2 separate regions of the Homo sapiens genome follow, and region 2 is reported to be linked to region 1. Evidence: microRNA targets listed by miRTarBase, many of them from high-throughput screens and not tested one by one. Region 1 holds a microRNA gene; the other region holds the end of a gene's coding sequence.

Region 1 (4,067 bases):
TTTCTTCAAACAGGCATTGAAAATAAGGGTGAAGTGCTAGAAGTTTTTTGATCAACAAACTTTGACATGGCTTTCTCTGTGATCCAAAGTGAGCAACTGTAGCTTATTAAGCAATGGCAAGAAACAACTCATAGATAGGGTGGGGAAGTCAGAGATGATAGCAACTGATCAGAACCTATCCTCTCACCATGTGCAGTCCCCCCTGATTAGGGGAGTTCTGTGAGCAGTTGAGAGCCATCCCAGGGAACAGATGCTGCAGGCAGAGTCCACATGTAAGAATGCAGGTGCCTGGAGTAGTCAGAGTCAACGTTCATTATTGTGTCACTCCACACAAACTAGTCTGGCAGCTGTCCAGTGCTCAGTGCTATCAAGAGCCTTCTCCTTTCCTGTGTCCATTAGCCCTGAGGACTCACTGTTTTGGTGTCTGCTGTTAACTCTCACTTAAACAGACACAAGGCAGAAGCACCCCAGGAAACATAAGTACAGACTTCTCCAGACCAGTAAGGAATTAGGAGGAAGTGATGTAGGAGTGGCCCATATTAACTAACGATAAAACAGCCTGTAGTTACTGAAGGGTTATCAAAAGCCAGACCTTGTGCTAAGTCCATGAGAGGAATTATTAAATTTAATCCTCACAAAAGTTCCATGGGATAAGTACCACCATTAGATACAGTTTACAGCCAGGAAAACTGAGGTTCAAAAAACATGAGGGACTTGCCCAAGGTCACACAACTATTAAGTTGCTCCAGGATGGGTCTCATACTTTGTTCCTTTTCTCTAGGATAAATAGGGGAATCTGGAATGGGAATATCCAGATCGACTGGACTTGGACCTACAACACCAATATCAACCTCGCTAGGGAAAGGCCCTGACACATACAGGGAATAATATGGGGGAATGGCATGAAAAGTCTCGAGGGAGATACATAGCAGGCTAACTCTTGGTGAAAAGGTGAATGCGGGGTGCCAGCCAGTAATCAATGGCAAAAAGAAGGTGAAAGAATAAAGTAATTGAATGATAGTGTTATTATGATTTTGACCTTTTTCAATATTTTGTTTGTTTGTTTGTTTGTTTTCAGCTGCGTAACTCTGTTCTACAGGAAATCTTTGGCTGAAGGACGATGTCAACTAGAAGCAGAGCCGCTCTAGGTAGGAATGAGGGAACATGAGCAGAGCTCTCTGAGGCACCTCTACACAGCAGTTTACAACCCTAAAATTGTATATATGATTAAATGGAGGCCCAGGGAGAGCGCGAGTTATACTGGGGTCATCAAAATGGAATTAACAATGGTGAATTTTATTGTGCTCAACTAACTGTGCACCAGACTGTTTCACCATTTCACATGTAGACTTAATCTCCACCACAGCTCTATGAAGAAGACATAATCATGTCATAAAAGCTACAGATAAGGAAACTGAAACACAGAGAAGTTAAATAAGTTGTCGAGGCAAGTAAAAGAACCAAGATAAAATCCAGACACTTTGGCCTCAAAGACCAAGTGAGTAGCCAAGATGACAACTGCATAACTAGAGCTAGAGGAAGTCAGATCTAGAACCCCGATCTCCGACCAGTGGTCCTGCACGTCTCCCTCCATGCTGTTTCTACTCTCATGGGGCACAATGACAATAGGACTTAGGGGGAGGGACTGAAAAGTGTTTACATCTGAGAAATCTGGAGAAGCGAAATTGTTCATAGCTAAAGTCGTGCCTTTTGTGCCAAGGGCATCATTTGGGGGGACACTCCCTGCTGTAGGTGCCAAGGTGCCTAGATCAAGACTTCAAGCAGAGGAAGCAGAATATGGTTGTTTTGGGTTCACTTTAATGACCTCAAGTGCCTTCTACAAGCCCAAGTCATAAGACTAAAGAAGAAAGTTGTCTGTCAGAGAGTAGAAAGCCCTCAGCTAGGGGATGCTCCTTAGCTCCTTCTCTCAGGAACCATGGTGGAGCTCCAGGAAGACACAGAGTTCTAACAAGGGTTAGGAATGATTCCTTGGAGCAATGTTCCCCTATCTCCCAAGCAAGCCTCCCCCCACCAATCTAACCCCACATTTCCCCAAAGCCACCACTCATCCTGATAAACACCACACAAGAGAACACAGGGCCCTACCTTGATTCTCCTCTGAAAAAAAGCAAGAAGGTTGCTTCAGGGAGACCAACCAGCCTGGTTGGCCTGGAACTGACATATCCCAGCAAATTCCTCAGTCCCAGGCAAACCATAATGGCTGGTCACCCTAAGTCACTCTCCCATGAGTTGACAATTTCTTAGAGCAACAACTCTCCATTGCCTCAACTTGATGCACACACTCACACATGCACTCACACACAAATCACTCTGTAATAGGTGGAGGCAGGAAACTGCCTGTTTTTCTCCAGTAACAGCAACCCTGACAAAAATAGGCTTGAATGACTAAGGCCAAGTTTATGGCCACCCATAGGCCACAGAGGAACTCACTGCCTGAACTTTCTTCCTGTCCTGGGGGGATCTCGGGAAGAAAGGAAGGAAGGGCTTAGTCACACCCTGGGAGTGGCAGCCAGGAGCAGTGCTGCTCAGCTCCTGACAGAGTAAACTCAAAGGCTCTTTCTTCAGGAAAAAATAGATGCTTCCAGGCTTTGCTCCCTTTTTACAGAGCCAGCATGACAAACACTTACCCAGGGAGGAAGGAGAGGCAGCCAGAAAGCACAATCATCTCCCCATCTTTGGGAGAAAAGTTTCTCCAACCCAGCAGGTCCCTGAGCCTCTACTGGACCATCCACTTTGGCCAAGCCACAGGCCAAGGGCCCCCTGGGAAACTCACCTGGGCCCCGGGTCAGACTCCGCTCCCTGGGGATGCAGAAGCAGCCACCCATGTGTGTACCATCCTACCCTGGCCGAGGCCCTTGGGAACACAGGCCAGAAGAGTGCTGCAAGGGACAGCCTCCCAACGGTGTCCCTCCTCCCGCCTCCTCCCTGGCACACGAGGGACCGAGGCCTGCTCAATGCACAATGCAGCCTTTGATATCCCGGCTACAGCAGGAGGCCCAGGGAGGGTGGGAGGGGCAGCCCAGCCCAGCCTGCAGGCCCACAGCTCCTGCACTGTCAGGCCTGGGGAACAGGGCTCCTCCCTGCCTCTCAGCAGATCGCTTCATGCCTATCAGCCTGCAGCACATTCCTCGCATTCTAGGATTGAGATACACAGTTTGGTTCTTGTGAGGGCAGCCAGGGCTGGGGAGGAGGGCAGAGAACATCCCAGAGATCAAGACTGCTCTTCTTGCTCCCTCCCCGACTGACTTGGCCCACACTGACTGGCCTGCCACCCCTTTACAGTGATCTCCACCCAGTCTCTCTCTGCAAAGGCCTCCCTTGGCTCTCTGATAAAGTTGGAGCTGTGGGTGCAGCATTTCACTTGGACCTAGCAGCATCAATGAGCCAGCTCCTCACTGGGGAACATGCAAACCCCCAGCTGCTGGTGTGCAGGAAAAGAATCCAGGAGATCACCTGATGAAGCCCAGCATTTTACAGGTGAGGGGATGGAGAACCAAATACATCAAAGGATGGGGAGAGGTTGGTCAATAGGTAAAAGGTTAGAGTTACATAGGAGGAGTAAGTTCTAGTGTTCTATTGCACAGTAGGGGGACTACAGTTAATAACGTATTGTATATTTCAACATAGAAGAGAGGATTTTGAATGTTCTCACCACAAAAAAACAATGATGTTTGAGATGATGGATATGATAATTACCTTGATTTGTTCATTACACAATACATAGATATATTGAAACATCACATTCTAGCCCATAAATGTGTAGAATTATTATGTGTCAATTAAAAATAAAACTAAAAGAAAAAATACAGCAAGTCTACAGGTATGCAAGCAAAACTGGTCCCACAAGACTAACCTCTTTCCTGTTTCAGATAGGCAGTGGAGCAGGGGAATCCAGTTGACACTGTGGCTAAATTTCAGAAAACCTCCCATGAGATCTTGCAAAGGAGATGGAGAAAATATGGCTGAATGCCAGCAAGGTAGGACGGAAGCATGACTGCTCTAACAACCAAGCTCAAAGAGCACTGCTCACCCAATGTTTCCTTCAT
Region 2 (4,065 bases), not on the chromosome of region 1:
CTAATTCAAAAGTGATATGGAAAATTCAACTAACATTGAAAGTTAGCCTGTTCTGTATTTGTAAGAGAGTAATGATACTTCCTTCATAAGGCCCTCATGCTGATTAAATGAGAAGTATGGCCAGTACCTGGCAGGTAAGCAGATGCCCAGTAAATATCAATTTTCTACACTCCTCCCCACCCCTTTTAGTCAGTCATTTCTTTCCAGTGAGATGTCTCAGTTGGTTCCACAGCTACTTGGAACAGACAGAAGTGCTCCCTGCTTTATAATCCATCAGTTTTCAAACTTTGTTTGAAAGTACTCTTGTTGTACTCAAGAATTACCCAGAGAGGTTGTTAAAATGCAGTCCTGGGCCCCACCTTGCAGAGATTTGGCAAGTTGGGGTAAAACCTAGAAATCTACACTCTTAATCTTTATTATTAGAGTTGCTTAAAATATATTTGTATTTCATGGTTGTGTCAGCATCAAAATACATATCCAAAGATATGTTTGTACATTACTATAAAAAAAATTTTAAACTGGCTACAGCACTTTCTGAACTGCAAAGTAACTAAAAATGGTAAGATCACCCTGTTTTAAAGTTTCCTTTATTTCTTTAGATCTTTATGAAACATTCCATCGTTTGCAGATCATAGTGCTTTATTAACAAATTCATGTGTTCTTTTCCCATCCCTTTAATACAAAAAAATTATTCATCAGTTATTTTCATCTGACATTTCACTAAGTACAGAATGCATAATGTCAACATTATTAGATCAGCCATTCAAGTGGGTCACATAAGTTTATCCTCATTGTGCCAAATACCCACTCAAAGGATAAGCTGAATAACAGATGCCTCCAGGTGTATACAACAACCTTAGTTTCTTGACTTGAACTAGTCCTGTTTAACAGGTCAAACTGCTAGTCTTTCTAAGTAAACTAAAAAAGACTCAAGTACACAGCTGTACATACATATCATCAGATGGTAAGTTCATTTCAACAAGAACCTCTATAACTAACTGTACATTTGTACAGTTTTCTGCTATCATTGCAAAAGCCCCTCTGAACAAACTTATAGTTTAGAATTTAAAACAATCCTGATGAGACAAAACGTACCAGGTGGCTTTTCTGTAGCAGAAATTAATTACAACCATTTTTCCTCAAGCAATTTTAAAGACAAACAAAGTTGAAAATAAATATGCAAGCATACAGTAAACAAAATGTCTATACTGAGAAATTCAGACACAAAGCACAGTGGAGTCTATAACTGTAGAAGTTAGAAATACAAACTAGCAATGAAGCAACAATCTCTTCCAAATAGCAGGAAACAAGTTCTCCAATACCATTATTTAGATAATTATTTAGTGATTTTGGAGTTTTTTTTTTAATCCCGTTTGCTGATTATGACATTTGACCAGAATCTCAAGAAATACCTTAAATCATACTGCATGAAATAAATGACCATTTAATTCCTGATTAGTTGAACTCCTTAATGACTTTTCAGTTTTGTATATAATAGAAAGGTTCAAGAACCTTTGTAGATTTGCTTACAATTGCTGCTGGTATTTATGAAAGCTTTTAAAAGTTATGTTATATTCTTCTGCATCTGTTGATTCCACATTAATGTAATTCTCAAGTATTTTATAAACAAGCCTTGGGTGTTAGAATGGTCTGTTTCAAATTTTCAGGCATGCTATTTCGACTTACTTACTGCAAGGTATCACCCCCCTTTCCTCCCCTCCACTATAAAAAAAAAAAAAAAAAAAGGTGGCAGAATGGAGACAAATTTCCAGATTTAAGTAAAAAGAAATTTAAGATTTTCCCAGGCTTGGATTACAATCCTTGGTGGACAGGAATGCCAAGTATATATGCCAATTGTTAAACGTTTTATGAAATTAAACATGAAACGAAAAGAAAATGAATTCCAGCTAAATCATATTAAGAAGGAACGAGACATGAGACATATTAATAAGATATGACACATTTATCATCCATAATCAAACAATTCAAATCCCTGACTGAAATTGGCTTGAAAAATGATACAAACTCTATGGCTGCTTTAAAGGACTGTAAGATAACATGTTTTTAAAGCCTATATAAACCACTGATGCACTTTTATATACTTTATATTCAAAACTAATCTATGGAGCTCATTCCATTCCATTTAAAATAGTAAGTCCTCACATATTTGTGGTTACTTTTACAGTGTTTTTAAAAAAGGAGTACTGCTAATAATTTAAGACATCCTAAAGACAGAATAGGTGTGAAGGCTTCTTTTTATATTTGGGGTGTTTTAGGTAATTTTTAAGAACTTAAAATTATTATTTGTTCCTCCTTAATATGAAACTCTTCCAAAATACCTTCTGACCAGTAAGTAAATGTTCCTTAGGCACTGTGAGGTGTATTAATGATGAAGCATGAACCCAGGCTGAGAAGTGTACAATTTGATTTTAACTACTGCCAAAACAGTTAACAAGCTCTGTCTTATCCACTGACAGCAGGAAATGTCTTTACCCCACTACTCCTGAGATTCTAAAAAGGGAAAACTAATTTCACAAACAACCTTTAAAAGAATCCATAGATGATTCTAAGAACAGCACATATTCAGGGTATTAGAAAAGATGTTTTCTTTTGTAAGGCATCAATGATTAAAATAATAGAACGCATATTTACTAACAAAAGATGGTTAACATTATCATAAAACCATTTATCTTTTTAAACTTCTCTAATTCCTGCTAATTTTGCCAGCTTAAATAAGAAATGAATGCCTCTTGGCCTAATCAACTATGGTTATAAAAAACTAAGACATCTGAAACTATTAGGCACATCAAAGGTACGGCTTATGTAATTCAAGGTTCCCTTCTTAAGGGGCAGGTGAGTTACCTGGCACATTATACATATGGAACTGTGAAGATCATCTACTAAATTCAACTTTCACATTTTTAGTCAAACTGAAAGACTTATAGTAAATATTCAAACATACCATATCTTCAGTTACAACCGAGTAAGTGTAACATTTTACCAGATAAAAACCTGGAACTTAAGTATGAGAAACCTTCATATACTGTGCTCGTATTGGTCTCTTCTTTTTAGATGAAAGCCAGTCATCAATACTTTCAACACAGCAGTTTAGAAGATAAACGTCCAAAACAGTTGACTTGGTTGTAGTCCATAATTTAGCAATTCAATGCCACTGGCATTACAGTGCTGTGGAGCGCAAGTGTATCTCTATATTTCAGTCAGATTTGTCTTTCTTCTTTCCTGTTAAGGGCACTTTGTTTACAACAGCAGACCCAACAGCTGTAACACCTCCAGCCACAGCAGAGACACCCCCTTTCACCAGCCCTATTCCCATGGAAGGCACAGTTGTAACAGCTGTTTTGGTCACTTCCAGACTCTTTCCACCAATCCAAGCCACACCACCAATGGTGGCACCAACAGCTCCCTTTGTAACACTGAAGATACCCCCAGTCACACGGGACAACATGCCTGGCTGCTGCTGTGGGTGATCTTTCATTGAACCTAATGAGAGAAAATATCATGAGACAATCAAATATAAGTCACAAGTCTTTAAAAGAGCAGTACACATCATTAAGTAACCTAAGACTTCCTCACAACAGGAGGTTGATTTGATAAGGCCAACCACACTGATTCAAAGACACTGAAGAGCTCTTCCTTCAGGGTATAGTTGTACATGTTTTTACAATATCTTGGTCCAATGCTAAGTCTTAGTATCTATGAGAAGAAATGCTTTAGAGACTAGACAACTTTTGTAAAACAGAATCCTATTTTAAATGTTTCCTTGGTTTACGGTTTTGTTAACAAATAACCTTTATTTTACATCCTAAAAGGAACATGAAAAAATAAAAAGATAACTACATTTGGCCTTCATTTCCTTGATAGGATTTAATCAGTCATTACCGAAACAATCTTCTTCGTAAAATGCAGTAGTTTTCAAGGTATGGTCTGGGACCACTACAGATGCCGAAGACCATTTCAGGGGGTCTACAAGGTAAAAACTATTTTCATAATATTATTAAAATATCATTTGTCTTTTCACTTTCTGTCATGAGTCTATAGCAGTTT

The links. Region 1 holds the annotated microRNA hsa-miR-584-5p (UUAUGGUUUGCCUGGGACUGAG, at 2,197-2,218, opposite strand). A microRNA usually pairs through its seed, bases 2 to 8, with sites in the 3' UTR of a target mRNA and lowers its output. Matches are read on the target gene's strand: a 7mer-m8 pairs with bases 2 to 8, a 7mer-A1 pairs with bases 2 to 7 and ends in A, and an 8mer does both.
Region 2: miRTarBase lists TMEM263 as a target of hsa-miR-584-5p. Seed matches in the 3' UTR shown: 7mer-m8 at 2,765-2,771.

What each region holds. Positions count from the first base shown.
Region 1 is chr5:149,060,177-149,064,243 of GRCh38, forward strand. MIR584 (microRNA 584) reads right to left here and starts at 2,233; the gene lies at 2,137-2,233. It overlaps SH3TC2 (SH3 domain and tetratricopeptide repeats 2), which reads right to left and starts at 2,886. Exons shown (of 17, transcript NM_024577.4): 1 at 2,795-2,886. The coding sequence starts at 2,846. SH3TC2-DT (SH3TC2 divergent transcript) reads left to right here and starts at 3,141. Exons shown (of 3, transcript NR_122044.1): 1 at 3,141-3,498. RefSeq lists a silencer at 2,850-3,144.
Region 2 is chr12:106,970,541-106,974,605 of GRCh38, reverse strand. TMEM263 (transmembrane protein 263) reads right to left here. Exons shown (of 4, transcript NM_152261.4): 4 at 571-3,501. The coding sequence ends at 3,215. Among named protein-coding and RNA genes, the nearest start is that of MTERF2, 15 kb to the left of the region's middle.